3 separate regions of the Homo sapiens genome follow, and all the other regions are linked to region 1. Evidence: fine-mapped expression QTL. A gene starts in region 1. Each other region holds a variant in brackets. All regions are shown on one strand. Distances are from middle to middle.

Region 1 (10,881 bases):
ATCTTAAGTGTACAGCATGATAAATTTTCACAAAATAAAGTAGCCACATAAACAGCACCCAGATAAAAAATACCAGCATCCCAGAGACCTCTCATGTTCTCTTCTATTACTATCCCCTAAAGGTAACTGTTACTCTGTCTTCTAACACTATCAATGGCTTTACCTCTTTAAAAAAATGTTACATAAGTGGAATCATACAGTATATACTCTTTTTACTCAGTGTTTTTTGGTGCGGTTCCTCCTATTTTCACACGTAGACATAGCTTGTTAATTCTCATAGCCAGATAGCACGGGTTGGCAAACTATGGCTTACAGGCTTACAGGCCAGCTGACTGTTTTGTAAATAAAGCTTTATTGGAACACAGCCATACTCATTCCTTTATGTCTACGACTGCTTTCATGCTACAATGGCAGCACTGAGTAACTGTAACAGAGATCATATGGCCCTCAAAGCCTAAAATATTTACTATCTGGCCCCTTACAGAAAAAAGTTTGCCAACCCCTGCGATATAGTATTATGTGCCTATGCCACAATCTATTTATCCACTGTACCGTTGATGAGCAACTGTGTTGATTTTAGTTTGGGGCTATCATGGAGTTGCCAGATTTAGCAAATAAAAATACCTAATGTCTCCTTAAATTTGAATTTCAGACAAACAATAAATATTTTTAGTGTAAGTATATCCCAAATATTGTATGGCAACCCTAGGCTATATGAATACATGTATGAATATATGAATAGCATAACTATGAACATTTGAATAGGTAACTTTTGGTGAACACATATACACAACTCTGTTAGGTATATTGCTAGCAGTGAAATTGCTCAGCCATAAAGGATGTGTATGCTCATGCTTAGCAAATACTAATAAAGATTTTTCCAAAGCAGTTTTACCAGTTTACAGTTTCACTAGCAGTGTAAGATTTGTTTCTTATCTTTGGCAATGCTTAGTATAGTTGGTCCTTTTAATTTTAACCAATGTGATGGGTATGTAGTGGTATCCCATTATAGTCTTAATTTATATTTTCCTGCTGACAAATGAATTTAAGCATTAGTTGGGCTGTCTTTTTCGTGATGGCCAGTGATTTATTATATGTTCTAGCTTCAGTTGGTGAACTAGAACAATTATATATCCTTTCTCTTTGTCTCTTCATTTTCTCTCTCTTCAGAATTTGACTTGGGGAAGAAGAAGAAAAGAAGGTGGATTTCAGCATGAAAGAATCTAAACAGTCATTAGTGAACAAATGTGTAGCAGTGCTGTCCAACAGAACTTTCTGAAGAAGTAATGGGAATACTCTGTATCTGTGATGTCCTGTATGGTAGCCACTGGCCTCACACAGCTCTTGAGCACTTGAAATGTGGCTACTGTGACTGAGTAATTGAGTTTTAAAATTTCATCAATTTTAATTAATTGAAATTTAAATAGCCACATGAGGCCAGTGACTACAGAATTGAACAGCACAGGTCTCACAGATGGACTAAGAGTAAGCCAGTTACGAAGAAGCTTATACAGGAAGACCGGCTAAAATATGTCAAAGGAGAGTTTCTCTTTCTGAACTCCGAGGAGCTGTTCAAATAAGACTGGTCTGGAGAGAGTTTTGGGTGGCTGGAGGTATTTTCACCCCTCCACTTACTGTGCCTAACCTTAGTATTGTTGCCATTCTCACGTTTCTGTATGACTCCATCTCCCTTGTTCTGTTCCGATGCCGCTTTTTCAGTTTTTCTGAGCTCTCAATTAAACACAGTGAAATGAATCTCCTCCAAGTGCCTTTTTAGTGACTAAACTGAATAGTTGGCTCAGAATGCTACAAAGTCCTCTCCCTCAGGAAGAACCAAGTTTTACCATTAAGATCCTGATAGATTTACCAGCTTTAACTGACACCTCTTGGGGTGGCTTCCAGATTCACACTTTCTCCTTTTTGAGAAGACTCCCAGACACACGGGGATAGGTCCTGAGTGATCATATTTGAGCCACACAATCTTGTTACGCTTGCTGTAGATCCATGGTTCAAAAACATTCAAGTGTGTCTGACTCAGCTGGAGGACTTGTGAAGACACATGTGGTGGGACCCATCCCTAAAGCTTCTTTTCCAGTAGGTGTGTAGGTGTGGCCCAAGTATCTGCATATCTAACAAGTTCTCAGGTGATACTGATGTTGCTGGTCTGGGGATTGTACTTTAAGATAATTAAGTCAGGGACTGTTGCCTGACATAGGACAATAAGCTTCTCTCAGGAATTTGAAATTTGGAACAAAGAGCTCGGAGTCTTAGTGCTAGTAGACCAGTGCTCTGGAGAGGTCTGAAAACTACCACTGCTTAGGTTCCTAGTTTGTCCAGTTCCTGTTTGTCTTGAGCCTTGGTTGTCTAATCCTTTGAATAAATCCCATTACATTCTTTGTTTTGCATAAACTGGCCATAGAAAGTTCTTGTTGTCTGCCCCTAAAAGAACTTTAACTAAAGTGTGAGTATGTCAGTTAAAGTGTTCCACCAAAAAAACAGAAACGATTCTAAGTAGTATTTAAAACAGAGATAATGTGGTCCAGAGAATTGGCCATACTGTGATAGAAGATCTGTGAAGCCAAACACCCAACGCAGAGATTAGCAACAGCAGGAAGCTATCTCTACCGCTAGGCAAGAGGGACAAAGGGAGAAGGTGGTGTTACAAGGCCAGGGTGACCTGGAAGAAGCTGGAACCATGACAGACCAGTCCAACAAGGAAAATGCTGCTGCCACTGCCAGAAACATCACCCAATGCACCTCTGAGGAAGTGAAGAAATTCCCTAGCTTCTCTCTTCCTCCTGCCTACAATCCCCCAGCAGTGCCTCTCCATGCTGGGAAGCTTGGGAAAAGCTCCCTATGTTACTGAGGACAGCAGGGGATCCTGAGGAAGAACATATAGATCTGAGAACAAGTCAAGGACTGGCACTGTTCAACCCTGAATTTCTCATTTTAGTCTTCAAAGTACATTTTGCCTACTTACCAATTAGAGTGAGATAATATGTGCATGCTATATTCTTTCTAATAGTCTCTGTTAAGAATAAGAATTTTTAATTTAAATGGGTTTTTATTACCTTGTTCCATAATTAGGCCTGACATTTCTGAGATAATCTTTTGGGAAAAATTGCAAATGATATCAAGAACTAACATTTGTATAGTGCTTTTCAGTTTGAAAAATATTTTTACATGCTTCATTTAATTTAATCCTCAAAAACCTCATGAAATATATATTATTATTAACCCTATTTTATAAATAAGGAAACTGAGGCTCAGAGAGAATAAATAACACAAATATGCAAAGTAACATGGATCACAAATAATGGAATGGCACAATCCCAAACCTGGGCTTAGCATACAACCTTGATTGTTGCAAAACACCAAGCTATTGCATGAAAGTACACGCAAGGCTACACACTTTCATTTCTTTCTCTCTGTTGATAACTCATTTCCTCCTTTATCTAAAATCCAGTATCTAGAGTAAAACCTTATAACCAGCACTGAGAGAGGTGATTTTAAAAGATCATCAAAATGCTTCGTGGTGCCTTCTCCTCATCCCCTACCTGTATAGACTGTCAAATCTGTTCTTAGTGGTCTCACAGGTTCCTAATTAATAGGCCACGATTATGGGATGAGGCAGGGCTTTTCATAAGGTCTTCAGAACAGCAGCAGTTATGTAAAATGAAAAGATAGAAAGTAAAGAAACCCATTTTGACTGAGAATATCAATTAGCTAGACAGAGTGGGTGTTTTTGATGATTTATGAGACTACTTGGCCACCTAGAAAAAATTAAATGCAAACATACACAATGATTGTGTATGAAAGTGAGTGAGAGAGAGTGTGTGTGTGAGTTTCCTTCTGTCTCCAAAGAAGTGGTTAAGCCTCCTCTGCTGCTAGTTCTACAGACTGTATTTCTCATGTTAAAGAGCCATCTTTGTTTCCCTTGGTTACCAATGAAACTGTGCAGGGATCAGTTCAAATCCATCACCACTTGCAGATAATTTTTCCAAACACAATGCCCTCTTTCTACATCTATTATCTATATTTATAGCTATTAGATAGGAAGAGCAGTTCACATGTGCATTTCTCCACATTTATGTGCTTACAGTCTATTGTGTATGCTGTCCTTTATATGGAGATGACTATGTCACATGGCACATCCCTATAATATTGTTAAAGAGAATGGAATTTTTGTTTTCAGACAGACTGCATCTTCTCCTTCATTACTGAAGAGCCAAGAGAACTTGTTGTAAGGTGATTTCTCCATTAAAATTACTCCTCAGAGTGTGCCTCAGTAACATACTTTTATCTACAAGGATAAGCCCTGTCTTAACAGAAAGGCTCCACATTCAATTTATTGACTCAATAAATTTCAGGCTCACTGATTATGTTTCAGTCTAAAAGCTTTACACAGTTATAAAATTAGAAGAGCCTTTAGAATCATCCCAGGTCAAGTTTCTCTCTGAATATTTTTCCACCATGAACTGCGTTACATTAAGTCTACCCATTAGTTAGAATATCAGTGATTATATCCTTGATCTGATGGCCAGGGGAAAATTTATATTGTCAGAGTTCATTTTAGATAATATTTGAAATGGAAGAAGTAGCTGAGGACAGAAGAGCAACATTCAAAGCTATCTTCTTTCGGGGGAGAAAAGTGGGTCTTGTCTATAAAGAACAGGCTTGTTAAAAGAACATCAGAATTCATCGCTAAACATCTCTCTGAGCAAAACAAAGCATTTCCTCTCCCCTGAGATCCTCAACTAATTTCATAAATATTTTTTCACTTGAACCCAACTTAGTGTTGCAGAATGAAAGGAGAAAATAAATGATAAGAGTTCCACCAACACTTCAGTAGGGAGTTGTCTGAAATCTTAATTGTGAACCTTTTTTTCACAAGATGCACAGTCTTCTAGAGATTTTGCTAGTGGAACGGGTGTGTGAGCTGATCATTATATGGAATTGAGACACATCAAATGCCATTAAAATTTACATTTACAACTCGAGTAACTAAATGCATTGATTCTTTTCATATTAAAAGACACTTGGTATTCACTGAATAATGAAAAATGCCACGGAAAAAATTATGTATTAACAATACAACCTGCCTAAAGGGTCAGAATTCTGCTACACACCTTTTGCTTACCTTTAAATAAATATTTAGGTGTGTTAAGAGCAGGGCAATTCTTGAACGGCACGATGTTGTTTGGTTTAATGTCTTTATAAAAATATTTGAAAAGGTATGGAAAATGAGGTGAGAGTGTTGTGGATTTAAAAACATGTGTATACATAGATACACAATTATTAAAACTTTAGACAAGGACGTTTTCTTCCTGGGAGTGGAGAGCCACCAGCGCGGGAAGTCTGCTGCAGGGATGAACAAAAGCATGGCTGCACGATAGTATTATCTTTGCAGCAGCAGCAGGCGCCCTGACGGAGGGTTGCGGCGACTGTCTAGTCTATCACACCGCACTTCTGGTAGTGACAACCTCCGTTATTCTGTCAGCTCAGCCGACTAAGTGGTTCCCCGCGTTCTGCCTGGTCACCTTGTCTCCGTTAAACGGGAAGCAGAAAAGAGAAAGGTGAATTGAGGGGGTACAAGGAGATTCCTCCGCCTTGGGACCGGCGTCGCCCCATCCTCTGGAAGTGTTGAGCGGGGAGAATTCGAGGACCGTATTTAACCCAGAAAACAGTAAGCCCTCTGAATTAGCTGCTACGCCTGGGGAAGGCAGAAAAGTCTTAATCGTCCCTTCCCAGCAGGGACCAAGAAAGACCAGTTAGAGCGAGCCTGGCCGGACCACGCGAGCCCCGGACCTCTCCGATCCTTCAGAGCCCGCGCCGGGCAAAGTAGAGGTCAAGTCAACACACACGACCGCAGGGCAGCCCTCCCACTCTCCCGTGCGGTCCGCAGCTCGGCTTCGGAACGACCACCGCTAACACTGCAAGGCTGTAAGGCTGGGAGGGGGCGGGTCCTGAAGGGGGCGGGAATAAGAGGCGGGGCAGAAGGGCGGAGGAGTGTGTCGGGAGATGTAGTTCCGCGAGTCCCGACAGCAAAGCTGTCCCGGCTCCGCTAATAGATTGGGACCACTACTCCCAGGAGTCTGCGCGCCCGACCGGAGCGTCCATGCGCAGTGGGAGCCACTTTGTATCCTATCAGGCGAGGAGAGGGTGATGTCACCTGCGAGTTAGTAACCTACGAGCGGCTGTGAAGGAAACTGTTTAACCGGATCCCATTGTACCCAGAGTGCAGAGCCGCCTTTCCAGCATGCAGGGGCTGCTCAGGTAAGGGGGACGCTCCTCCTTGCCCGCCGCACTCATTCATTAAGTGGCACTGCTCAGTGGTGCGGGGGTGGGCGTGCTTCCGTGGGCTGGGCGCTGGGTTCGCGGCGCGCCCTCCTGCTGCCTCCCCGGAGCTCCCGGGCCAGTAGGTAAATATTAAACCCGTCCTTCAGGTTGGGTCTGGGTGGGAACGGGACCGAGACAGCTCTCGGCTGCCTAGCTGGGGGTGGGAAAATGGCTGCAGCGCAACGCAAACCGAGGCAGCAGGGAGGAAGACGCCCCCAAGGACTGGGGTCCCTCCCTTTCTTTCTAAGGCGCCCGGCTGGCCGAGGAGCTGGCGGGGTAACACTCGCCGCCTTGCTGAAGGCTCCCCGGGGCTGGGGCCGCGGGTACTGCAGCGGCGTCCGCGAGCTCCCGGCCCGGCGGCTCCGAGAGGGAGAACCCCGAGGCAGGCTTGGTGGACACGGCGGTGGCGACAGGGAAGGAGGGACTCGTGTACCCGTTCGCGTCCGAGCAGAGCCCCCAGTGCCCCTGGCACCCTCACTTCCAGCCCCATTCGAAAGGGACGGAGCGCCTGTAATTCAGACTAAGTTGGACCTAAATGTTTCAAAACAGAGAGAAGGGAAATCGGGCGTTGCGGAGGGAGAGCAGGGTGTTGGCGGCCGGGGAGGCTGCGCCGCCTGCGGACCCGGTTGTGAGGCACCGCAGAGGGCTTTTGCCGCCCGTCCCTCTCGGGAGGGCGCATCTCAGTCTCCACGGTCCCTTGGTGTAGAGCACCTGGGCTGGGGCGAAGCGCCTGCCCTGAAGCCCTGGGCCAGGAGGTGGTAGCGCGGGGGTGGAGGTGTCGGATAATCTAATGATTAGGCTCGCTGTGGGGCAGGAGGGCTGGATAATCGGGTTTACCCAGCTGGTTCTGAAAGCCAACTGCTTGTGATCGGCTTGCCCTCTGAGTGGAGACGTGCAGGAGGCCCAGAGCTCTCAGTCCTCTGGATGTTCTTTGCCTTTCCTAGTACCTTCATTTGTTCGTTTACTCATTCATCAAACCCTGCTAAGGTCTCAAGTTGTTCACGGCCTGGCTTTGCGGAGCTACCTCTCGCCCCATAACATATTTAGTGATGCCTGAACTCCATTCCCCTCTCCTTCATCTCCACTTTCTGGAGAGCATCAAGAGCAAATGCCACCGTGACCGTTTTGCTGGTAGTTTCTTGAGATTCGAGCAGGACCCAGTGAATCGAAGCGGAGTTGCCTGCAAGATGAATCCCGTTGCCATGGCGACTCCTGCCTTCGGAATCTTAGCCGCTGCCACTGCTGTTTCGATTCGATGTGGCTCTGCGGGCAGCTGGGAGGGAGTGGCTAGTGGGTGTGGTCAAACGCTCGCCCTGGCCCAGCTGCTCTCTCCTCCTCGCCCCTTTCACAGCCCCGGGACTCTCCCCTTTCTCTCCTAAATAGCTTGGACACAGTTCTAAACCCCTTTCCCTTCCCCGTGCCACACCTCATCACGCCACCTCTCTCCCTGAAACTAATTGTTTGGCGCCTTTTTCCTGAGGCAAACTCTGAAAATTATAATTTGAAAAATCTCTTCCCCCTTTCGGGCTAGCCGCATCATTTCCCCAATAAGGTAGTTTATGGTGTTGGAGGCAGCTTTGTCATGAAAGGCGCCCTCCCCTGTTGTGCATAAAGAGAGCTCTCTGGTCACCAGCAAAGGCCCTCAATTTGCTCTAGGTGCAGCTGATTGGAAGTGATTAGGGACAATTAATAACGGCTGGAAGACACTGCAGTCCCTTGTGGTTCTCATAAAATCTAAAGCCAGGCTAGAGGGCGCAGGTCCTTGAGGGTGAAGCATGCAGGGCCATAACCAGGAGCCTTGGGTCCTACTCTGGCTCTGTCAGTCACTGGCTACTCCACGTTGGGATTAACCCTTTACCTCTGGGAACCTCAGTCTTCTCTTTGGTAATGTGAGGAAAGGGTAGAGAGGGTTTCCTAACGTTAATTCTAGGCGCAATGGCCTATGATTCCAAGATAGACTTGGTCATTGTCCTTTTTCGTCCCCGACCCCAAAGTAATCTGAAGTTAAGGGTTTAAACTTGGCTTCTGATACTGTGCCGTCAGGTTATATGGACAAGGCAGCTATGTGACTATTTATAATACTGTTTATACTACCACTACTATTATTCCAGTATCTGGACCCTTCTAATTATACTTTAGTATTATAACTAATTGTTTAGGTTTTGCCTTTTTATAGATTCCTAATGAATGCAGTTATTTGTAATTGCATTAAGTGTAATTGACATATAAATATTTTGTTTCCCCTCTGCTTGCATTTTATACCAATGTGCATTATCACAGATGTTGCAATTATGGGGGAAAGTGTGTATATGAGAGTGTCTGTGCATGTGTATCCATAGTCAGGTAAATGCTTGGGATTGCTGTGTGCTTGGTGGTTGACACTTACGATCTTATTTTAAGTAGGTAGCTACATCCCCATGAGGAAACAGGATCAGAAGTTGTCACTTTTTTCCTGGAACTTACCATTAAATGAAAATTTCCTTCATTCTTCTGCTTGTCTACCCTACTAGATTATAAGCTCCTTGAGGGCAGTGTCTTTGTTTTGTCCTTTTCTGTCCCCCCAGCATTTAGAGCAGTTTGTTCATTTGTAGGTCTTTAATAAATATATGTTAAACGAATATTAAGTAGCAGAACTATGATTGGAGATCCAAGGTCTATTATTTCCACTGATAGTTCTGTCATCCGTGGTAATATTCCCCTTAGCTTTTCTATCAAGCAGTTTCATTTCATCATAAACCAAAACTTGTCTGGCATAAAAGGCCTTCTATGTATTTGAAATAGACATATTTCCTAATTATTTGCTTTTAGAATACATTCACTCACATCGACTGTTTCTTTGTAGTTACAATTTCTTATTACCCCTGAACCAGGCATTTCTAGATTTCTCTCAGTTGCACTATCCTTGGCCCAGATAATCTTCCCAGGAGGTGTGTGACACGTGAATAGGGAGAGACACCAAGAGAAAGATACCCAGAAGCCTTTGCCAGGCCACCAGTGTCTCCCAGAAGAGCTGGGAGACAATAGTCCTCTCACCTGAGGCAGAGCCGTTCCGTAAACAGGATCAGTTGTTTCAGGCTGGTTGATGTGAAAGAAATGTGAAAGAACATTTGCCCAATATTTGTAACATGTTACCATCCAGTAGTCTGATTCTGTGGGTTTTCAGGAGCATAAATTAGTAAATTAGTGAGGAGGTGTGATAATGAAGAGGGTGTGGTGGGTCACATCCTTGGGTGGTGCTTACAGGAGCTCCATGAATAGGTGCTAAGGAATTTGAATCCTGGCTTTCTTGTTTTGTGGACATGTTCTGCTTGTTAAGGGGTGTGTGTGTGTGTGTGTGTGTGTGTGTGTGTGTGTGTGTGTGTGGTTTTGAGCTACTTTGTTTAAAAGGCTGCTTTTAGTGTTGGCACTATGGTCCTTAAAACAAATAAGGTGTTTACAAGCAAAAGTTCTGATTGAAAGTGTTTCATTTTGTAAATATTTGGGAGATGGCATAAAGAGAAACTTGAGGTCTTGTGTGAAAACACTTTAAAGTTGCAGCTGTTGGACCAGAGGAAACATGCTTTTCCAACAAAGCTTGGTATCCTTGAGTGCCCTAGGTGTTTGGTTCAGGAAATAATCACAGAGCTTGTAACTGCTGTGGGGCCCTCCCTGGCTTCAAGCCGTGCTCTGGTATTTCCAGTGTTAAGTCTATCCTTATATTGCCGGAAACAAAGCAAGGTGTCCAACTTGGGTTAGCAAACTTGTTTTCTCTCTAGAGGGGACACCAGTCAAAATAGAAGTTCTATATTCTGTTGTGATTTTTTCCTCTTTGGATGAGGAATATGGTGACTTATTTTGGTATTACAATTTCTAACTTGGTAATAGAGGTAATATTCTAAGTGAATACCAATCTTAAGTACGCACAGCATCTGTTGTAGTGGTTTCAAGACCTCAAAGTTTAGGCCGGGCGCGGTGGCTCAAGCCTGTAATCCCAGCACTTTGGGAGGCCAAGTCGGGAGGATCATGAGGTCAGGACATCGAGACCATCCTGGCTAACACGGGGAAACCCCGTCTCTACTAAAAATACAAAAAATTAGCCGGGTGTGGTGGCGGGTGCCTGTAGTCCCAGTTACTCAGGAGGCTGAGGCAGGAGAATGTCCTGAACCAGGGAGGCGGAGCTTGCAGTGAACGGAGATTGCGCCACTGAACTCCAGCCTGGACTACAGAGCGAGACTCCGTCTCAAAACAACAACAACAACAACAACAACAAAACCCTCAAAGTTTAGAGGAAATTGATTGCACAGGTACTATTTAAGAAACTGGTACTGAGAGCATTTTCTCTATTTCTGTATGTGGCTTGGAGGTAATGTCTGGTTGACAGATCAGGCTAGGGTGGATGATACCCCTCTTGAAGATGCATTCACTTAGCAAGTGTACTGTCTTTTATGTAGATTATATTATTTAGAGTGGCTGAGGCTGCTGATAGAGACCAGCGTTGAAGTGTGGATCTGAAGTTCACCCCCTTTCTCTGAGCTGTCACCTTGTTTGTAGCCCCACTGAAAC
Region 2 (10,881 bases), 22 kb before region 1:
TGCCAAGGAAAATAGCTAAAAGGATATGCACTAAAATGCAAGTGATTGAATTACAGTTGAGTTTTATTTTCTTTTTTCTACAATATAATTTCAGTTTTTTCTATCATGAATATGTATTATTTGCATACATTTTAAAAGCTATTATGAGAATAATTATTTCCTGATCACCTCACTAGGTTCAGTGAGATGTAAGAAAAGCATAATAAGGCTTCACAGTAAAAAGAGTTTACGTGCTAGAACAGGCAATATATTAGAAGCCTCAGCCAAACACTAGGGTGCTTACCTCCGTAATAAACTCTCCTGTGTGCGAGATAACCATGGACAAGCCGTATCCCTTTTCTGTACCTCACTTTTTCCATATGGAAAAGCACAGTGACATTCCACACCTCGATATGATATCACTGAGATTGAGTGTATACCTCTTACATGCTCTGGGTCACAGGAAAAACCCACATACTGTCAGCACTCTGGATTTCCATTAGTGATATCAGCCATGGGTTTGTCGGCATATTTATTTAGTATTTCTATTTATTTTGCTATTATTAGATTATGTTCTGGAAATTTTTCCATGCATCATGGAGAGAGGCTTCTCTGTGGGAAATCTTAAATTGGTAATCATTTCCATCAGGAGCAAAGAAGATGTTTTGCTTTTTGCTTCTCTGTTAAGGTTGAGGAGATCTTTTATACATCTCTGTACTGTTTGGTTTTGCAGTGCAGGCTTTTCTGAAGCAAAATTTCACAGATAGTATGGCCTCTGATCAGAGAGCAGGGTAATTCAGCAAAAGGGAAATTAAGAGTTTGCAATGGCTATTTAGTCAGTGTGCAGGCCACTAAAGAGAAAGTAGATTATAAAGTAGAGAAATATCGAAAGTTGCAGGTTGATCTTCAGCTTTTATAAAGAGTCGTTATAACTTCTACATAAGATTCCACGGTTCAAGAACTCTTAAACCTTTGCAATGTCTAATGATATGGAAAAAATACTTATCTAATCATTTAAGAAGAGCAAAGGGTGATTCCTACCAATTGTTTCTTGAAATTAACAGAATAAATCCGACACTGGGTATTTAAAACTGAATAAATATCAATGTTAATAAGCTTTAAATGGGTTTCCGAGACTCTTCCTGATTAACTGTATCATGCACACTTCTACATCTGGCAGAAAACTGAAGTACTGAAAATCTTACTCTGAGGTTGTAGATGATCAGTGTCAGGTACTTAATTACGATTCATCTTCAACTCCAATTTAACCATTAATTAAAGTAGGTATCCTTGACTTGACATTCAGTGCAAGAAAAGCTCAAAAAGAAAATGTATTACACAATTCTGAAAAGCCACTGCCTGGCTCCTTTATGTGTGTTGCTCACGGTAGCTATAGCAACCAGTGTTTAAGACAAAAACACACAAAATCAAAGTCCTAGGCTGATGTGACAGCTCTCAAATGGCTTTGTTCTGTGTCTAAGATTTCCCTTCCTCCTCTTGCATCATATTTCACCCCAAAGCCTTGAATGACTAACGCACCACTTGGGGATGGGCAGACCAATGTTCACAGGAACAAAAGGGAAAAGGGTGGGCTGGAGACAGGCTGTATTAGGACCACCTGTCCTTTCGGAGAAACTAAAATGTAGATGTCCAGTGCAGCTAGTGAGACTCAGTTCCCTCCGTGTTCTGCTGGGAAAGAGACTGTTCTGCAACAGCTGTTGCGTTGTGTCGGCAGTGCCTGTCCATCCCCCTCCAGGAGCATAGATGGGGTCAGCCCCTGCATTGCTCAGCCACAAACTCACCGTAACCTTCCCTGGGCTGAGCATGGGGTGGGAGGGTGGTTTCTATTTCTAGACTAAAAAAGAACAGATGACTTTTCATGTTTAGTTCTAAGTAAAGAAAGAGGAAGGGAACAGGGTGGGAGAGGGAGCTAGAATTAATACTCTGAGCATTTACAGAAAACAAATTGGGGTAGTGATTTTTATTTGGGCTTAAACATTTTAGTTAGTATTTCATTTATTATTCTAGCAGATGTGGGCCACACGTTCAAACAGAAAAGTGGTAAATAGAAACTATTCAATTTGGGCATTCATGTTTTCAACATAAAGGGACATGGACTATTGTATCCAATACTGGCCTAAAATGCTAAAAGCACACTTTTCTAGTATTCTATTAATTGAGAAAAATTAGGCCACCTCCAAAATATGGGAAATTATAGACCCCTGAATATCCCTTTTGGAAAACTACATCTGACATTACATTGCAGGGCATATTATCATGGCTGGAATATTTTTACACATGTAAACCCTTAATTGAATGACAAACTAATAATTCTCAAGAATTTCTTTAAAGGAAGTTTAATATTTTGGTTGGCAAATGTGCCCAGAGGAAGTATCACATTAATAATACTTGCTTTTAACACGGTTCATTTCTTTATATAGTCGGAATGCTTTATGGTGGATTAAATCCACAAATTGAAAAGAGAATGAATGCACTTGAGCTTTTATGACTTATTCTGTCTAAAGAATACTCTTAAGAAGCACAAAAATAAAACCCTGTCTCATGCCTGAGGGTAAGGTTAAATGATTAATGGCTTGAAAAAAAAAGAGAAAGTTACAATATATGTAAGGAAACAATCCATTAATCAGCGATGAGGAGAATATACAATATTGCTTTGCTAATGAAGATCGTAACTGTAGTCTAGCCTTGGACCTACTCAAATTAAGTTGGACCTACATCCAATGATGTGGGGATAAAAAATATAAAAAATTATTATCCATAACACAAATGCTCAATTTCCTCGGGCTCCTGGGTTCAATCACATATTTGGATGAGTTCTTTGACAGTGCTAAGTAGAGAAATGGCTTGTAGAAAAGAGTTCTAGAACTTTCCTAGATGTCTGAAGTGCTGCACATGACATTTATGCCAGAAAAGCTTATTTATTAGTTTCGACCCATGGTCAGTGCCAATGTAAGTAGCGGGTGAGGTGAGCGAACTAGGAGTCTCATTCTGTTGATCTTACCTGCATTTTTAGTATCAAATCCAAAGGAAAAGCAGCAGCATTTTAAGAGATACAGCTACTGGAAATACTTTATTTCGGTCAATTGGCAGACAAGTATAACGTGATTCCTTAATGCAAAGGGACAGATGCCTCTTAATGTAGCCATTAGCAAAAGAAGGGTATGTCTTATTGATTGCTATAGCTAAGAAGCATGCTGATAAATACAAAGTTGGCATTTATAAGGCATTATGCCTTGAGCAGTTCAGATATTCACCAGGGTGGAAACAGAGAACCAAATCAGGGGTTTCCACTACAAGTGACTTAGGCTGCTTGTCTGGCTCTTCTGACAGCCTTGGTCCAGAAGCAGAGCAACATTATAAATAAAAAGTACATAAGGGCACTAAGTGCAGGCACAAGGGACTTGGGTGAGCTGGAGAGGGGTTCCTCCTGTTAGGGTACCAAAATTCCCACCAAAGTGAACACCCTCCCTGTCTTGATCCACCGACAAGCATAGGCTTGGGGTCCAAAGAGATCTGATGTTAAAACATAATTGTTTGAACTGCACAAAGTACTCAATCTCTCTGAACCTTAACTTCTCATCTATAAATTAATGGATTTTTTGAGAAATAACAGGTAAAGTATACAAATTGCTTACTTAGCACAGTGCCAGGTACATATTAAGCCTTTTCTCTATCTCATCAATTTCATTCCCTTATTTATATCTCTGTTTTTTGTTTTGTTTTGTTTTGTTTTTTGTTTTTGAGATGGAGTCTCACTCCGTCACCCAGGCTGGAGTGCAGTGGAACGATCTTGGCTCACTGCAAGCTCCACCTCCCAGGTTCAAGCTATTCTCCTGCCTCAGCCTCCTGAGTAGCTGGGACTACAGTCACCCACAACCATGCCCGACTAATTTTTGTATTTTTAGTAGAGACGGGGTTTCACTGAGTTAGCCAGGATAGTCTCGATCTCCTGACCTTGTGATCTGCCCACCTCGGCCTCCCAAAGTCCTGGGATTACAGGCATGATCCACCGCGCCCAGCCTACATCTCTGTTTTAAACCTACATGGCAATATAAAGGCTGTTCGTTTGCATATCAATACATTCACTTAACTCAACATTTTATCAGTTGTTTGTCTTTTCTTCCCATATTTCCGCATTTGAAGACAAACCATGAAAAAAGCAGAATGGCATGGAGTTATTGTGAGGATAAAAATAGGTAATGCACATAAAGTGCATGGTGGAGGTGAGCATTCATACATCCATTCTCTCCACAAACAATTACTGAGCACTGGCAATATGTATGTGACTATGCCATACATAGTGGGGCACAAAGGAGAGCTAGAATTGGGTCCCTACATTCAAGCAGTTCACAATCTATGTGGAGTGGTAACAGGGGTATATTAAAGTATTACAGCAGAGTGGGACACCAAAAATGCTTTCCAAAAAGAGTCAATGCTCGAGTTGAATCTTGAGAGAAAGACAAATCAACCAGATTAGGAGTAGGGGAGAGTGGAAAGTGTGTTAAGGGGTTGGATAGGGGTGGGAAGGGAAGAAGTGCCAGGTAAATACAACATACCTAGAGCTTCTAAAGCACCTTTCAGTTCCCTGCTCTCAAACGTAAGCACCCAGTGATTGCCGCCCTCTGAGGAAAGCTCCCAACATGAAAGACTGAGCCCCAAACATAAAAACATAC[C/CAAAA]AAAAAAAAAAAAAAAAACAACTTTAAGGAGATACAAATAGGGCAAAGAGAACTCTTTAAAAATCATGATTAATATTATAACTGAGATTACGGAAGATACCATACCCATGAAACAAGAACAGAATGCTATAAAAATTTTAGAGAACGGCCAGGCGCGGTGGCTCATGCCTGTAATCCCAGCGCTTTGGGAGGCTGAGGCGGGCGGATCACGAAGTCAGGAAGATTGAGATCATCCTGGCTAACACGGTGAAACACTGTCTCTACTAAAAATACAAAAAATTAGCCGGGCATGGTGGCAGGCACCTGTAATCCCAGCTATTCAGGAGGCTGAGGCAGGAGAATGGCGTGAACCCCGGAGGCGGAGCTTGCAGTGAGCCGAGATGGCGCCACTGCACTCCAGCCTGGGCGACAGAGCGAGACTCCGTCTCAAAAAAAAAAAAAAAAAAAAAAAAAAAAAAAATTTAGAGAACAACAACAACAACAAAAGAGCCTTTGGAAATTAAAATCTTAAGAGCAAAGCCAAGAGAGTTGAGACATGAAGAGAAAAAAACTAAGGGATAAAATAATCTTACTTTTAAGATGGACAAAACTGAAATCTGTTACTATGTTAAAAATTTTAATTTCCCTTTTGAAGGTTTACAGACAGGAATTATTTCCAGTACCTAAAGCAGGTGACTGTGAGATAATTAATGATACCCTTCGGAAGAGGAGGTGCTGAAAAGAGTGAAAAGATAAAAATGAATTTTTATTCGGCAGTTTAGAAAAATTATTGTTTCCCATCCTGTGAGTGCTGTCAGTGCACAAAAATCATATGACATAAAGTAGGGAGACTCTATTCCTAGTGTTGCATGTGTTAAAGAATGTATATATATTGGAGACAGGGTCTTGCCCTCTCACTCAGGCTGGAGTACGGTGGTGCAATCATGGCTCACTCACCTCCCAGGCTCAAGCAATCCTCCTACCTCAGCCTCCCAAGTAGCTAGGATTATAGGCACACATCATGACACCTGGCTAATTTTTATTTTTTATAGAGATGGGATCTTACTATGTTGCCTAGGCTGGTGTCAAACAATCCACCCATCTCAGTCTTCCAGAGTGATGAGATTATAGGCATGAGCCACGACACCTGGCCAAGAATAATTTTTGAAAGAAAATAAAATCGTCTGGGTGCAGTGGCTTATGCCTGTAATCCCAGCACTTTGGGAGGCTGAGGCAGGCGGATCACCTGAGGTCAGGAGTTCGAGAACAGCCTGACCAACATGGAGAAACCCCGTCTCTACTAAAAAATATAAAATTAGCCAGGCGTGGTGGTGCATGCCTGTAATCCCAGCTACTTGGGAGGCTGAGGCAGGAGAATCACTTGAACCTGGAAGGCAGAAGTTGCTGCAAGCCAAGATCATGCCATTGCACTCCAGCCTGGGCAACAAGAGCGAAACTCCATCAAAAAGAAAAAAAGAAAGAAAGAGAGAGAAAGAAGGAAAGAAAGAAAGAAAAAGAAAGAAAGAAAGAGAAAGAAAGAAAGATGGAAGGAAGGAAGGAAGGAAAAGGAAAGGAAAAAAGAAAGAGAGAAAGAAGGAAAGAAAGAAAAGAAGATAAAATCATGACTTTCAAAGAAATATAAAATTAACACAAAAATTTTTTGGTTTGTTTGTTTGAGACATAGTCTCGCTCTGTTGTCCAGGCTGGAATGCAGTGGCACCATCTCGGTTCACTGCAAGCTCTGTCTCATGGGTTCACGCCATTCTCCTGCCTCAGCCTGCCGAGTAGCTGGGACTACAGGCACCTGCCACCACGCCCGGCTAATTTTTTTTTTTTTTTTGTATTTTTAGCAGAGATGGGGTTTCACCGTGTTAGCCAGGATTGTCTTGATCTCCTGACCTCGTAATCTGCCCGCCTTAGCCTCCCAAGGTGCTGGGATTACAGGCATAAGCCACCAAGCCCAGACTAAAAAATTTTATTCAACTCATTAAGAGTCAACCAATAAGAGATTACAACTGATTCTGAAGACAATTTAAAGTACCACACATTAACAGTGAGGTAAGAAATGCTGAAATGATTTTGAAAAACAGAACTTGGCAAGTGGATTTTGTTTCCCTTGATTTATAATACCTGAATCTTAAATGAAGCTATAAAGTATGTTAAAATTGTATTAGTGTTTGCACTTACAATAGAGCTGTGATTCTTAATTGTATTACCTCTATGTTTATTTTTAAACTTGTTATTGTCTATATTAGTCAGGGCTCACCAGAGAAACAGAACCAATAGGCTATATACACACATACACATATGTATAGAAAGAGATTTATTATAAGGAATTTGCTCACACAATTACAGAGGTGAGAAGTCCCACAGCCTGTGGTCTGCAAGCTAGAGACACAGGAGAGCTGCTGGTATAGTTCAAGTCTGAATCCAAAGGTCTAAGAACTAGGAGAATCCATGGTGTATATTCCAGTCTGAGTGTAGGAGAAGATTAATGTCCTAGCTCAAAAACAGTCAGGCTAAGAGAATGAATTTGCCTTTACCCCCCTTTTATTCTATTCAGGGCTCCAATAAATTGAATGAGGCCCATCCACATTTGGGAGGGTAATTTGTTTTATTCAATCTATCAATTCAATTGTTAATCTCATCCAAACATATCTTCACAGACACACAAAATAATGTTTAACCAAGTACTTGGCCCGGTCCATTTGACACATACAATTAACCATCATATTCACTTCAATTAAGTAAATACTCAAGGGTTGTTTCTCAAGTATTCATGATCCCATCTTAATTGAAAAGCCAAGGCCAGGCACAGTGGCTCATACCTGTAATCCTAGCACTCTGGGAGGTTGAGGTGGCAGATTGCTTGAGCCCAGAAGTTCAAGACCAGCCTGGGCAACATAACTCTACTAAAAATACAAAAATTAGTTGGATGTGGTGGTGCATGCCTATAGTTCCAGCTATTCGGGAGGCTGATATGGCAGGATCACCTGAACCTGGGTAGGTCAAGGCTGCAGTGAGCCATGATTGCACCACTGCACTTCAGCTGGGTGACAGAGTAAGACAGACAGACACTCAGAAAGAAAAAGAAAGAAAGAAAGAGAAAGAAAGAAAGAAAGAAAGAAAGAAAGAAAGAAAGAAAGAAAGAGAAAGAAAGAAAGAAAGAAAGAAAGAAAGAAAGAAAGAAAGAAAGAAAGAAAGAAAGAAAGAAAGAAAGAAAAGGGCAAATCTCCTTTGACAACTTTCCGATTTTTGCCTTCCCCCAAAATGGATGATCCCTTGATAAGGCTGTCAATTAGGTAAATTATTCTTCAGCTCCTTCCTGTCATATCCTAATTTGTATTTTTTCTAGTGTCACAGCCCCTCTCAAAGACCCAACACCAGAACGTGCATGGCTAATTGGCCAAGGTATTCCTTTAGCCAAGCAAAATCAAATGCTAAAGATATTTTCTTCTCATCCATCAAACCCATCTATCCTGTGTCTCCTTTCCTAGAATTTGTTATCTTTTAATCTGAAACTTATTTCATGTTACAGAATTATGTCCTTTCCCAGGTATCATTTGCATTTTAACAGTGAAAACATAATATATATTTAAATATTGAGCACATATTGAGTACAATTTTATGTTGGGCATTATGCTCTACCTCCATCATCATACATGGTCAATTTCTGGATTCAGGAAGCTTACATTCTATTACATTAAGTAAACACAATAATTGCTATAGTAACATTATAAAGTCTCCTCAGGGTACAGTGGCTCATGCCTATAATTCCAGCACTTTGGGAGGCCAAGGCAGAAGGATTGCTTGAGGCCAGTAGTTCAAGACCAGCCCAGGCAGCATAGTGTGGCCCCTTCTGTACAAACAAAACAAAAAATGAAAATTAGCTGAGCATAGTGGTATGCACCTGTAGTCCTAGCTACTCAGGAGACTGAGGTGGGAAGATCACTGAGCCCAGGAGTTACAGGCTGCAGTGAGCCAAAATCATGCCACAGCACTCCAGCCTGGGCAACAGAGCAAGATCCTGTCTCTACAAAAAAAAAAAAAAAATTAAAGTCCCAGAACTCCTTAACTTGATATTCAATTGATTTCAACAATGGTGTCAAGACAATTCAATGGGGGAAATAATAGTGTTATCAAGAAATGGTACTAGGACAACTGAATATTCACATTCAGAAGAATGAAGGAGAAGAATGAAGTTGGACCCCTACCTCACACCACACTCAAAAATTAACTAAAAATTAATCAAAGACCTAAATGTAAGAGCTAACACTATAAAACTCTTAGAAGAAACCATGAAGTAAATCTTCATTACCTTGTGTTATAGACTTAATTGTGTTCCCCTCCAACTTTGTATGTTGAAGCCTTGATTCCCAATATGACTACATTTGGAGATACGGTCTTGAAGGAGGTGATTAAAGTTAAATGAAGTCATGAAGGTAGTGCCCTTATCTAATAGGACTGACATCTTTATAAGAAGAAGAAAGGGCATGAGAGCTATCTCTCTCATCACACACACAGAGGAAAGGTCATGTGAGAAGGTAGCCATCTAGAAGTCCAAAAGAGAGGCCTTACCAGAAACCAATTCTGCTGGCACTTTAGTTCTTGGACTTTTAGCCTCCAGAACTGTGAAAAAATAAATTTCTGTTGTTTAAGCCACACAGTATTTAGTATTTTGTTGTGGCAGCCAGAGCAGACTAATATACCTTGGGTTAAGCAATGATTTAGATATACAACACCAAAAGCATATGCAACCAAAGAAAAATAGGTAAATTGGACTTCACTAAAATTAAATATTTTTGTGCTTCAAAAGATGCCATCAAGAAAGTGAAAGATAACCCAAGCAATGGGAGAAGATATTTGAAAATCATATATCTGAGAAGGGACTTGTATCCAGAATATATAAAGAACTTTTGAATAGACATTTCTCCAAAGACATACAAATGGCCACTAAATATAAGAAAAGATGCTTAACCTTCTTAAATCATTAGGGAAATGCAAATCAAAACCCTAATGAGATACCTTATCACACAATCTAAGATAGCTACAATTTTAAAAATACAATTTAAAAAATTGTTATTTAAAAATAATATAAACAACTGTTGGGGAGGATATGGAAAAATTTGAACCCTCATACACTGCTGATAGGAGTGTAAAATGGTACAGCCACTTTGGAAAACAGTTTGGCACTTAAGCATAGAGTGACTATATGACCCAGAAATTCCATCTCCAAAAGAATTGAAAACATATGTCTACACACAAACTTGTACATAAGTGTTTATACCAGCATTGTTTTTTGTTTGTTTGTTTGTTTTGTTTTGTTTTGTTTTGTTTGAGACAGGTCTTGCTCTGCTGCCCAAGCTGGAGTGCAGTGGTGCAATTTCAGGTCATTGCAGCCTCTGCCTCCCCGATTCAAGTGATTCTCCTGCCTTAGCCTCCCGAGTAGCTGGGATTACAGGTGCACACCACCATGCCTCGCTAATTTTTGTATTTTTAGTAGAGATGGGGTTTCCCTATGTTGTCTAGGCTGGTCTCGAACTCCTGACCTCAGGTGATCTGCCTGTCTCGGCCTCCCAAAGTGCTGGGATTATAAGTGTGAGCCACCGCACCTGGCTCCAGCATTGTTCATAACAGTTAAAAAGTAGAAACCTCCCCAATGTCCATCAACTGATGAGTGGATAAAAGTAATGTAGTATATCCATACAGCAGAATATTATTCAGCCATAAAAAGGGATAAAGTATTGATACATGCTAAAATATGGATGAAACTTGAAAACATTATGCTAAATGAAAGAAGCCAGTCACAAAGACCACATATTGTATGTTTCCATTTATGTGAAATGTCCAGAATAGCCAAAACTGTAGACAAAAAAAGTAAATTAGTAGTTGCCAGGGGTTAAGGGGAATGGACAATGAGGACTGACTGCTAAAGGGGTATAGGGTATTTTTTAGGAGTGATGAAATGTTCTAAAATTAGCTTGTGGTGAGAGTTGCATAACTAGGAATATACTAAAAGTCACTGAATGATACACTTTAAGTGGATGAATTTTAAGGTATGCAAAATATATCTCAATAAAGCTAAATATATGTACATACAATATGTATCATGATAATATGTAATAATAAACACACGCCTTTCTTTCTTTCTTTCTTTTTTTTGAGACAGAGTCTTGCTCTGTCACCAGGCAGGAGTGTAGTGGCGCAATCTCGGCTCACTGCAACCTCC
Region 3 (10,881 bases), 210 kb after region 1:
AACAAGACCCTACGTGAGCTAGCCGCCTGCTCCATGCCTCTCTCAAGTCATCCCTGAGTCATTTCTGCTCATTGATGCCAGCCACGTGGGCTTCTTGCTTGCTTTTTCTTTTTTTTTTTTTTTTTTTTTTTTTTTTGAGACTGAATAGCTGGGATTACTGGTGCCTCCCAACACGCCCAGCTAAATTTTGTAATTTTAGTAGAGACAGGGTTTCACCATGTTGGCCAGGCTGGTCTTAAACTCCTGACCTCAAGTGATCCGCCCACCTTGGCCTCCCAAAGTGCTGGAATTACAGGTGTGAGACACTGAGCCCAGCCTTCCTTGCTTTCTTTTGTAGGTGTGTACCTCAGAGCCTTTGCACTGCATCTCCCTCGGACTAGAATGCTTTTCCCCTCATTTTCCGTGGGACTCTCTTTCTTGCTTCCATCAGGTCTTCATTCAAAAGACTCCTCAGTAAGGCCTACCCTGCTCTGTCCACCCTACTTAAAATTCCCCTGTCCCTACAATCCCAATCTCACGTATGCAGCTCTATTTTGCCATAGGACTTGCTTTCTAACACACACATCTAATTTGTATACTTTGTGTATTATCTGTCCCCTCATCCCATACTAGAGTATAAGATTCACAAAGGCAGTTTTTTTAACCTATTTTGTTTATTGGAATATTCAGTATTTGGAAAAAGTACCCAGTACATGTGGGCCCTCAGCCCATGTGTGTGGAATGAATGGATGGATACCTGAATAAACGAAGAGCAAGCATACTAATTGTACTTAAATCGTGTAATACTTGGGGTGGCTTATAGGAATTGAGAAGATTTGGGGGTGGCAAAGTAAGGTCCCCAAAATACCTCTTGATTTTTTTTTATTACAACAAGACATTTATAGGAGATTGACTCCAAAGGATAAGGATGGGGAGTGGGAGAGAGAGAGAGAGGGACCGAGGGAAAGAATGAGTGATGTGAGGAGGGGAGAGAAGAGAAGGGGAAGAAGGATGAGACTTAACTGACAACAGAAATATGAATGATGACTGATGGAAACAAGTGTACTCTAAGGGGCCCTTATGGCTTAGTATTTATGCCCTAATAAACAACCATTTGAACGAGTATTATACTCCTCAGTACCTAACCCTTTATAAAAAAGTTCTCTAAATTGTTATGCCCTAAAGGGATTTTAAACACCCTGCCAGCCCTCCCCGCAGTGTCCTTCCCCTTGGAAGAAGAAAAGAAGTTGGAGCCCACCAGGAAGTGCCAAACCCTTTTGACTTTGTCCTCTGTTACACAAACACACAAGAGCTCAGAAAGCACACACGTTTTTAGAGGGAGAATTCTTTCCCTTCTCCCAGTTCCCATGAGGACTGAGTTTTCTTCTGGCCTCTCCCTACCCATTTACTCAGTCTACCCTAGGGATTGGTAAATTTCAGAATAACAACAGGTTACGCTAATCTCATTCTGACCTTTTTCTCTTGAGAACAAGATGCTCAGAAGGGCTCTGCCGCATGGAGAGGCCTGCTGTGAGCCCATGACCCCTTGCAGTGGGGGGGCTGCTTTTTTCTAGGGCACAGTTAGCAGGCTTAGTTGTTCTCATTTTAAGCTACATCCTCCAACCAGGCTTCTATCAAATAAAAGTACAATTTTAAAAAAATCTTCTGTGTTAGCGTGCTGTCTGCCATAACAAAATACCACACACGAGAGCTAATATCCAGAATCTACAATGAATTCAAACAAATTTACAAGAAAAAAACAAACAACCCCATCAAAAAGTGGGCAAAGGATATGAACAGACACTTCTCAAAAGAAGACATTTATGTAGCCAACAGACACATGAAAAACGCTCACCATCACTGGCCATCAGAGAAATGCAAATCAAATGCATCTCACACTAGTTAGAATGGTGATCATTAAAAAGTCAGGAAACAACAGGTGCTGGAGAGGATGTGGAGAAATAGGAACACTTTTACACTGTTGGTGGAACTGTAAACTAGTTCAACCATTGTGGAAGTCAGTGTGGCGATTCCTCAGGGATCTAGAACTAGAAATACCATTTGACCCAGCCATCCCATTACTGGGTATATACCCAAAGGATTATAAATCATGCTGCTATAAAGACACATGCACACGTATGTTTATTGTGGCACTATTCACAATAGCAAAGTCTTGGAACCAACCCAAATGTCCAACAATGATAGACTGGATTAAGAAAATGTGGCACATATACAGCACGGAATACTACGCAGCCATAAAAAATGATGAGTTCATGTCCTTTGTAGGGACATGGATGAAACTGGAAACCATCATTCTCAGCAAACTATCACAAGGACAAAAAAACCAAACACCGCATGTTCTCACTCATAGGTAGGAATTGAACAATGAGAACACTTGGACACAGGAAGGGGAACATCACACACTGGGGACTGTTGTGGGGTGGGGGGAGGGGGGAGGGATAGCATTAGGAGATATATCTAATGCTAAATGATGAGTTAATGGGTGCAGCACACCAACATGGCACATGTATACATATGTAACAAACCTGCACGTTATGCACATGTACCCTAAAACTTAAAGTATAATAATATTTAAAAAAAAAATACCACACACTAGGCAGCTTAAACAACAGAAATTTACTTCCTCACAGTTCTGGAGGTTAGCAGTTTAAGGTCAAGGTATCAGGGTGGTTTCTAGTGAGGACTGTCTTCCTCACTTGCAGGCTGCCACCTTCTTGCTGCCTTCACCTGGCCTTTTCTCTTTGCGTGCAGAGAGACAGAGAGTGCACTCCAGTGTCTCTTCCTCTTCTTATTAGGACGCCCATCCTGTTGGATTAGGCTCCACCCTTTTGACTTCATTTAACCTTAATTATCTCCCAAAAGACCCTCCCTTCAAATATAGTCATATTGGGTCTTAGGGCTTCAATACATGAATTTTGGGAGGAAAAAATTAGGTCCATAACATCTCCCATCTGTCTTTCTTCAATTTGTTCAAAACCCAGAAGAGAAAGAGAGAAAAAGAGGTGTTACTTATTGGGGATCCCCTTAGAGATCCTAGAATCCTGCATATGCCCTTTCCTCCTAAGTTTCTTTTTCTTTTTTTTTTTTTTTTTTTCTCTTTGAGACTGAGTCTAACTCTGTTGCCCAGGCTGAAGTTCAGTGGCACAATCTCAGCTCACTGCAACCTCCGCCTCCCAGGTTCAAGTGATTCTCCTGCCTCAGCCTCCTGAGTAGCTGGGATTACAGGCGCATACCACCACGCCCGGCTAATTTTTGTATTTTTAGTAGAGACAGGGTTTCACCATGTTGGCCAGGCTGGTCTTGAACTCCTGACCTCAGGTGATCCACCCACCTCAGCCTCCCAAAGTACTGGGATTACAGGCGTGAGCCACCATGCCTGGCCCCTTTCCTCCTAAGTTTCTTAAACATATACTCTGTATATTCTGGACAACCAAAACATTAATAAAATTTAAGAATTCTGAAATGGATAAATATAGGTACTTTCACAGAATAAAAAACTCTCAAGGAATAAATCTTGAAGTAAATGCAAGACAATTTCCCAATTTTTTATAGGGCATAGTTGGGAGATATGTTATCATTTTTTTAATTTTTTTTTTTTTTTTTTCGACAGGGTGTTGCTCTGTCATCAAGGCTGGAGTGCAGTGGCAGGATCATGGTTCACTGCAGCCTCAACCGTTTAGGCTTAAGCCGTCTTCCTGCCTCAGCATCCTTTGTAGCTGGGACCACAGGTGTATGTCACCATGACCAGCTACTTTTTGCATTTTTTGTAGAGATAGAGTTTTGCCATGTTACCCTGGCTGATCTTGAACTCCCGAGCTCAAGCGATCCACCTGCCTCAGCCTCCCAAAGTTCTGGGATTACAGGCATGAGCCACCACACCTGGCTTCATTTTCATTTTGAAATCAGAAAAATTGAGTTTCAAATATTTTTATTTGAAGTTTTTATATTATAGAGTAAAAAATTATACATAGGAGGTTTTAAATCTCATATGTATACTCACAACTCAGATATTTACGTATCCAGTCCAGACCTCTGGATTTATATGTCCAACTTCCTACTCAATTTCTGAAGTAGAAAGTCTAGTGGATATCTCAAACCCAACACATTCAAAATCGAACTGATCTGTCTTAAACTTGCTCCTACTCTAGTCTGCTAGATTTTAAATGATAGCAACTCCATCTTTCTACTTCCTTTGGTCTAAAACCTTGAGGTCATCACTAACTCCGTCTGTCTTCACACAGCCCAGACACATTCCCATAGCAAATTCTTGTGGCTCTACCTACAATCCAGAATTTGATCTGTCCTCACAATCTCCACTGTTACTTCCCTCATTAAAGTATCATCATCTCTTTTTTGGGTTATTGCAGTGGCCTCCTTACCGGCCTCTCTGCTTCAGCCTTGCCCTCCCGTCTCCTGTCAATGGTCTATTCTCAACACAACAGCCAAAGTGAGGCTTTCAAAATGTATACAAAACCACATTACTCTGAACTCTCCAGTGGCTCCTTATCTCACACAGAAGCAAATGCCACAGTTCTCACAATGGCCTCCTCCACCCTAAATGATCTGAACACCAG[T/C]GCAGCACCATCAGCCCTCTGACCTTGTCCCCACCACTTCCCCTCTTCCTCCCTTTTCTTCAGCCGCACTGGCTTCCTCTTCTTCCTAGAACATACCAAGCACCAACCCACATCAGAGGCTTGGCATTTCTGTTTCCTTTGCCTGAAACATACTTCTCTTAAATATCACATCACTTTCTCTGTCATCTCCTCCAGGTCTTTGCTCTACTGTGACCTCAGTAATAACTTCCCCATGACCCAATTTATAATTACAATTCATGTCCCCATCCCAGAACCCATCCCTATTTTCTGCTCTGTTTTGCTGTGTAACACTTATCATCATATATTTTGCATAAAATTTGTTTATTACATCTCCTGATCCTATCCCACACACTAGAATATAAGCTCCATGAATTCAGAAATGTTTGTCTGTTTCATTTACTGAGTATTCCCAGTTAGAATAAGGTCTGACATACTGGGGTATCTCAATATATGTTTATTAAATTGAATGAATGACTTCAGTATGTCATTCTCTTTCTTTGATAGGCCAAAGATGAAAAAAATAGAGAAGATATGAATAAAACAATTGATGAGATGGATTTAATAGATCTAATTTAAACAAAGATATATTTGAAAAGATAAACCCCTATTTTCAAATGTTTATGGCAGGGTTTCTCAACAACAGCTATTATATTTTATGTCAAATAGTTCTTTGTTGTGGGGGTTTCATATTACAGTGTACATTGTAAGATGTTTAGCAGCATCACTGGCCTCTACCAATTAGATGCTAGTGCAATCAATACTCTCCCACTCTCAAGTCATGACAACCAAAAATGTCTCCAGACATTGCCTAGTGGAGAGTAGCCACCTATGGTAATACCTAAAGTTGAGCCACATATACACACCAAAAATATATAATTTAATAAGAAAAGTTTAAACAAAAAATATCACAATCAATTGGAAAAAAATTCTCCAAAAATATTGAGTCAAAAATTAACCAAAACAACATCGAAGATCTGTTTTTTATAAGGCTGCCAGATAAAATATAGGAACCCAGTTAAATTCAAATTTCAGACAAATATTGAGTAATTTTTTAGTCTAAGTATGTCTCATGCAACTTTTGGGACATACTTACACCAGACATTTATCTGTTGTTTTTCTGAAATTCTAATTTAACTGGAGAACTGCCAGAATTGCTAAATCTGGCAATTCCGGTTTATAAAATAATAAGTATAAGATTGCTACATATAAAATTATAGCCACTACCTATAGAACACAGCCAAAACCGTACTAAGACAAAGGTATGTTTGTCAATGCCTTCATTTCTTAAAAAGAGAAATGACTAAAAATGAACTAAAGTTTAACTGAAAAATTTAGAAAATGATAAAATAAAATGAAAGAAAACAAATATAAATAATCTAAAGGACTCTCCCACAGTTAAATTAATTTGCAGAAGAAACCCTTGCCGACTCTACTAATAGCCTTGCTGATGGGACTGTAATATTTCAAGTTCTTTGATCCTTGGACAGTGATGGATACATTCTAATAAAGCTTAGCATTTACTCACCACTCTAGATGCTCCATCAATGTCTTCTGTTGATGTCTTTTTCCTTTAGATATATAACTGCACATGATCATCATGCTGTGTTACGTCAGTAAGATTTTTTTTTTTTTTTTTTTTGAGACAGAGTCTCGCTCTGTCACCCAGGCTGGAGTGCAGTGGCACAATCTCGGCTCACCGCAACCTGCGCCTCCTGGGTTCACGCCATTCTCCTGCCTCAGCCTCCCGAGTAGCTGGGACTACAGGCGCCTGCCACCACGCCAAGCTAATTTTTGTATTTTTAGTAGAGACCAGTGATGATGGTTACTTCTAGAGTTTTTATGGTTTTAGGTTTTACGTTTAAGTCTTTAATCCATCTTGAGTTAATTTTTGTATAAGGTGTAAGGAAGGGCTCCAGTTTCAGTTTTCTGCATATGGCTAGCCAGTTTTCCCAACACCATTTATTAAATAGGGAGTCCTTTCCCCATTGTTTGTTTTTGTAAGGTTTGTCAAAGATCAGATGGTTGTAGTTGTGTGGTGTTATTTCTGACGCCTCTGTTCTGTTCCATTGGTCTATATCTCTGTTTTGGTACCAGTACCACGCTATTTTGGTTACTACAGCCTTGTAGTATAGTTTGAAGTCAGGTAGCGTGATGCCTCCAGCTTTGTTCTTTTGGCTTAGGATTGACTTGGCAATGCGGGATTTTTTTTTGGTTCCATATGAACTTTAAACTAGTTTTTTCCAATTCCGTGAAGAAAGTCATTGGTAGCTTGATGGGATGGCATTGAATCTATAAATTACCTTGGGCAGTATGGCCATTTTCACAATATTGATTCTTTCTATCCATGAGCATGGAATGTTCTTCCATTTGTTTGTATCCTCTTTTATTTCATTGAGCAGTGGTTTGTAGTTCTCCTTGAAGAGGTCCTTCACATCCCTTGTAAGTTGGATTCCTAAGTAGTTTATTCTCTTTGAAGCAATTGTGAATGGGAGTTCACTCATGATTTGGCTCTCTGTCTGTTATTGGTGTAGAGGAATGCTTGTGATTTTTGCACATTGATTTTGTATCCTGAGACTTTGCTGAAGTTGCTTATCACCTTAAGGAGATTTTGGGCTGAGATGATGGGGTTTTCTAGATATACAATCATGTCATCTGCAAACAGGGACAATTTGACTTCCTCTTTTCCTAACTGAATACTCTTTATTTCTTTCTCCTGCCTGATTGCCCTGGCCAGAACTTCCAACACTATGTTGAATAGGAGTGGTGAGAGAGGGCATCCCTGTCTTGTGCCAGTTTTCAAAGGGAATGCTTCCAGATTTTGCCCATTCAGTATGATATTGGCTGTGGATTTGTCATAAATAGCTCTTATTATTTTGAGATACGTCCCATCAATACCTAGTTTATTGAGAGTTTTTAGCATGAAGCGCTGTTGAATTTTGTCAAAGGCCTTTTCTGCATCTATTGAAATAATCATGTGGTTTTTATTGTTGGTTCTGTTTATGTGATGGATTACGTTTACTGATTTGCATATGTTGAACCAGCCTTGCATCCCAGTGATGAAGCCAATTTGATCGTGGTGGATAAGCTTTTTGATATGCTGCTGGATTCGGTTTGCCAGTATTTTATTGAGGATTTTCACATTGATGTCCATCAGGGATATTGGTCTAAAATTATCTTTTCTTGTTGTGTCTCTGCCAGCCTTTCATAGCAGGATGATGCTGGCCTCATAAAATGAGTTAGGGAAGATTCCCTCTTTTTCTGTTGATTGGAATAGTTTCAGAAGGAATGGTACCAGCTCCTCTTTGAACCTCTGGTAGAATTCGGCTGGGAATCCATCTGGTCCTGGACTTTTTTTGGTTGGTAGGCTATTAATTATTGCCTCAATTTCAGAGCCTGTTATTGGTCTATTCAGAGATTCAACTTCTTCCTGGTTTAGTCTTGGGAGAGTGTATGTGTCAAGGAATTTATCCTTTTCTTCTAGATTTTCTAGTTTATTTGTGTAGAGGTGTTTATAGTATTCTCTGATGGTAGTTTGTATTTCTGTGGGATTGGTGGTGATATCCCCTTTATCATTTTTTATTGCATCTGTGTGATTCTTCTCTCTTTTCTTCTTTATTAGTCTTGCTACCAGTCTATCAATTTTTACAAAAAACCAGCTCCTGGATTCATTGATTTTTTGAAGGGTTTTTTGTGTCTCTCTCTCTCCTTCAGTTCTGCTCTGATCTTAGTTATTTCTTGCCTTCTGCTAGCTTTTGAATTTGTTTGCTCTTGCTTCTCTAGTTCTTTTAATTGTGATGTTAGGGTGTCAATTTTGCATCTTTCCTGCTTTCTCTTGTGGGCATTTAGTGCTATAAATTTCTCGCTACACACTGCTTTAAATGTTTCCCAGAGTTTCTGGTACGTTGTCTTTGTTCTCATTGGTTTCAAAGAACATCTTTATTTCTGCCTTCATTTTGTTATTTACCCAGTAGTCATTCAGGAGCAGGTTGTTCAGTTTCCATGTAGTTGTGCAGTTCTGAGTGAGTTTCTTAATCCTGAGTTCTAATTTGATTGCACTGTGATCTGAGAGACAGTGTGTTGTAATTTCTGTTCTTTTACATTTGCTGAGGAGTGCTTTACTTCCAACTATGTGATGTGGTCAATTTTGGAATAAGTGCAATGTGGTGCTGAGGAGAATGTATATTTTGTTGATTTGGCTGTAGATGTCTATTAGGTCCGCTTGATGCAGAGCTGAGTTCAAGTCCTGGATATCCTTGTAAACCTTCTGTCTTGTTCATTTGTCTAATATTGACAGTGGGGTGTTAAAGCCTCCCATTATTGTGTGGGAGTCTAAGCTCTTTGTGGGTCTCTAAGGACTTGCTTTATGAATCTGGATGTTCCTGTATTGGGTGCATATATATTTAGGATAGTTAGCTCTTCTTGTTGAGTTGATCCCTTTACCATTATGTAATGGCCTTCTTTGTCTCTTTTGATCTTTGTTGGTTTAAAGTCTGTTTTATCAGAGACTAGGATTGCAACCCCTGCTTTTTTTTTGCTTTTATTTGCTTGGTAGATCTTCCTCCATCCCTTTATTTTGAGCCTATGTGTGTCTCTGCATATGAGATGGGTCTCCTGAATACAGCACACTGATGGGTCTTGACTCTTTATCCAATTTGCCAGTCTGTGTCTTTTAATCAGGGCATTTATCCCATTCACATTTAAGATTAATATTGTTATGTGTGAATTTGATCCTATCATTATGATGCTAGCTGGTTATTTTGCTCGTTAGTTAATGCAGTTTCTTTCTAGCATTGATGGTCTTTACAATTTGGCATGTTTTTGCAGTGGCTGGTACTGGTTGTTCCTTTCCATATTTAGTGCTTCCTTCAGGAGCTCTTGTAAGGCAGGCCTGGTGGTGACAAAAATCTCTCAGCATTTGCTTGTCTGTAAAGGATTTTATTTCTCCTTCACTTATGAAACTTAGTTTGGCTGGATATGAAATTCTGGGTTGAAAATTATTTTCTTTAACAATGTTGAATATTGGCCCCCACTCTTTTCTGGCTTATAGAGTTTCTGCTGAGAGATCCGCTGTTAGTCTGATGGGCTTCCCTTTGTGGGTAACCCGACCTTTCTCTCTGGCTGCCCTTAACATTTTTTCCTTCATTTCAACCTTGGCAAATCTGACAATTATGTGTCTTGGGGTTGCTCTTCTCGAAGAGTATCTTTGTGGTGTTCGCTGTATTTCCTGAATTTGAATGTTGGCCTGCCTTGCTAGGTTGGGGAGGTTCTCCTGGATAATATCCTGCAGAGTGTTTTCCAACTTGGTTCCATTCTCCCCGTCACTTTCAGGTACACCAATTAAGCGTAGATTTGGTCTTTTCACATAGTCCCATATTCCCTGGAGGCTTTGTTCATTTCCTTTTACTCTTTTTTTTTTTCTAAACTTCTCTTCTCACTTTATTTCATTAATTTGATCTTCCATCACTGATACCCTTTCTTCCACTTCATTGAATCGGCTACTGAAGCTTGTGCATGCATCATGTAGTTCTCATGCCATGGTTTTCAGCTCCATCAGGTCATTTAAGGTCTTCTCTACACTGTTTATTCTAGTTAGCCATTCATCTAATCTTTTTTTCAAGGTTTTTAGCTTCCTTGCAATGGGTTCAAACATCCTCCTTTAGCTCAGAGAAGTTTGTTATTACTGACCTTCTGAAGCCTACTTCTGTCAACTCATCAAATCATTCTCCATCCAGCTTTATTCCATTGCTGGCGAGGAGTTGTGATCCTTTGGAGGAGAAGAGGCACTCTGGTTTTTAGAATTTTCAGCTTTTCTGCTCTGGTTTCTCCCCATCTTTGTGGTTTTATCTACCTTTGGTCGTTAATGTTGGTGACCTACAGATGGGGTTTTGGTGTGGATTTCCTTCTTGTTGATGTTGATGCTATTCCTTTCTGCTTTTTAGTTTTCCTTCTAACAGTCAGGTCCCTCAGCTGCAGGTCTGTTGGAGTTTGCTGGAGGTCCACTCCAGACGCTGTTTGCCTGGGTATCACCAGCAGAGGCTGCAGAACAACAAAGATTGCAAAACAGCAAATATTGCTGCCTGATCCTTCCTCTGGAAGCTTCGTCCCAGAGAAGCACCCACCTGTATGAGGTGTCAGTTGGCCCCTATTGGAAGGTGTCTCTCAGTCAGGCTACACGGGGATCAGGGACCCACTTGAGGAGGCAGTCTGTCCGTTCTCAGAGCTCAAACACTGTGCTGGGAGAACCACTGCTCTCTTCAGAGCTGACAGACAGGGACATTTAAGTCTG

Direction of the effects. Alleles are on the strand shown, and positions count from the first base shown. SD is a standard deviation of normalised expression in the study named.
As copies of CAAAA replace C in region 2, the expression in non-classical monocytes of the gene that starts at base 6,175 in region 1 goes up (large effect, 1.8 SD a copy in Schmiedel 2018).
In carriers of allele C in region 3, the expression in fibroblasts of the gene that starts at base 6,175 in region 1 tends to be lower than with T alone (small effect, 0.19 SD a copy in GTEx).

What was found. PIP is the estimated chance that this variant, and not a neighbour inherited with it, causes the effect. A credible set is the group of variants that fine-mapping cannot tell apart.
Region 2: its variant is the best candidate, but not a certain one, in a credible set for the expression of DAAM1 in non-classical monocytes (Schmiedel 2018, PIP 0.59).
Region 3: its variant is the best candidate, but not a certain one, in a credible set for the expression of DAAM1 in fibroblasts (GTEx, PIP 0.51).

Annotation. Positions count from the first base shown.
Region 1 is chr14:59,182,493-59,193,373 of GRCh38, forward strand. It overlaps DAAM1 (dishevelled associated activator of morphogenesis 1), which reads left to right and starts at 6,175. Exons shown (of 25, transcript NM_001270520.2): 1 at 6,175-6,276. LOC107984642 (a long non-coding RNA gene) reads left to right here. Exons shown (of 2, transcript XR_001750928.1): 2 at 1,171-1,755. RefSeq lists enhancers at 5,678-5,917, 6,698-7,457, 7,168-7,327, 7,758-7,807 and silencers at 6,388-6,527, 6,588-6,807.
Region 2 is chr14:59,160,252-59,171,132 of GRCh38, forward strand. All of the region lies in intron 1 of LOC107984642 (a long non-coding RNA gene), which reads left to right. Among named protein-coding and RNA genes, the nearest start is that of DAAM1, 23 kb to the right of the region's middle. RefSeq lists an enhancer at 10,449-10,618. The variant C/CAAAA (reference allele first, on the strand shown) is at 4,674.
Region 3 is chr14:59,394,418-59,405,298 of GRCh38, forward strand. No RefSeq gene overlaps it. Among named protein-coding and RNA genes, the nearest start is that of GPR135, 66 kb to the right of the region's middle. RefSeq lists an enhancer at 1,195-1,704. The variant T/C (reference allele first, on the strand shown) is at 4,575.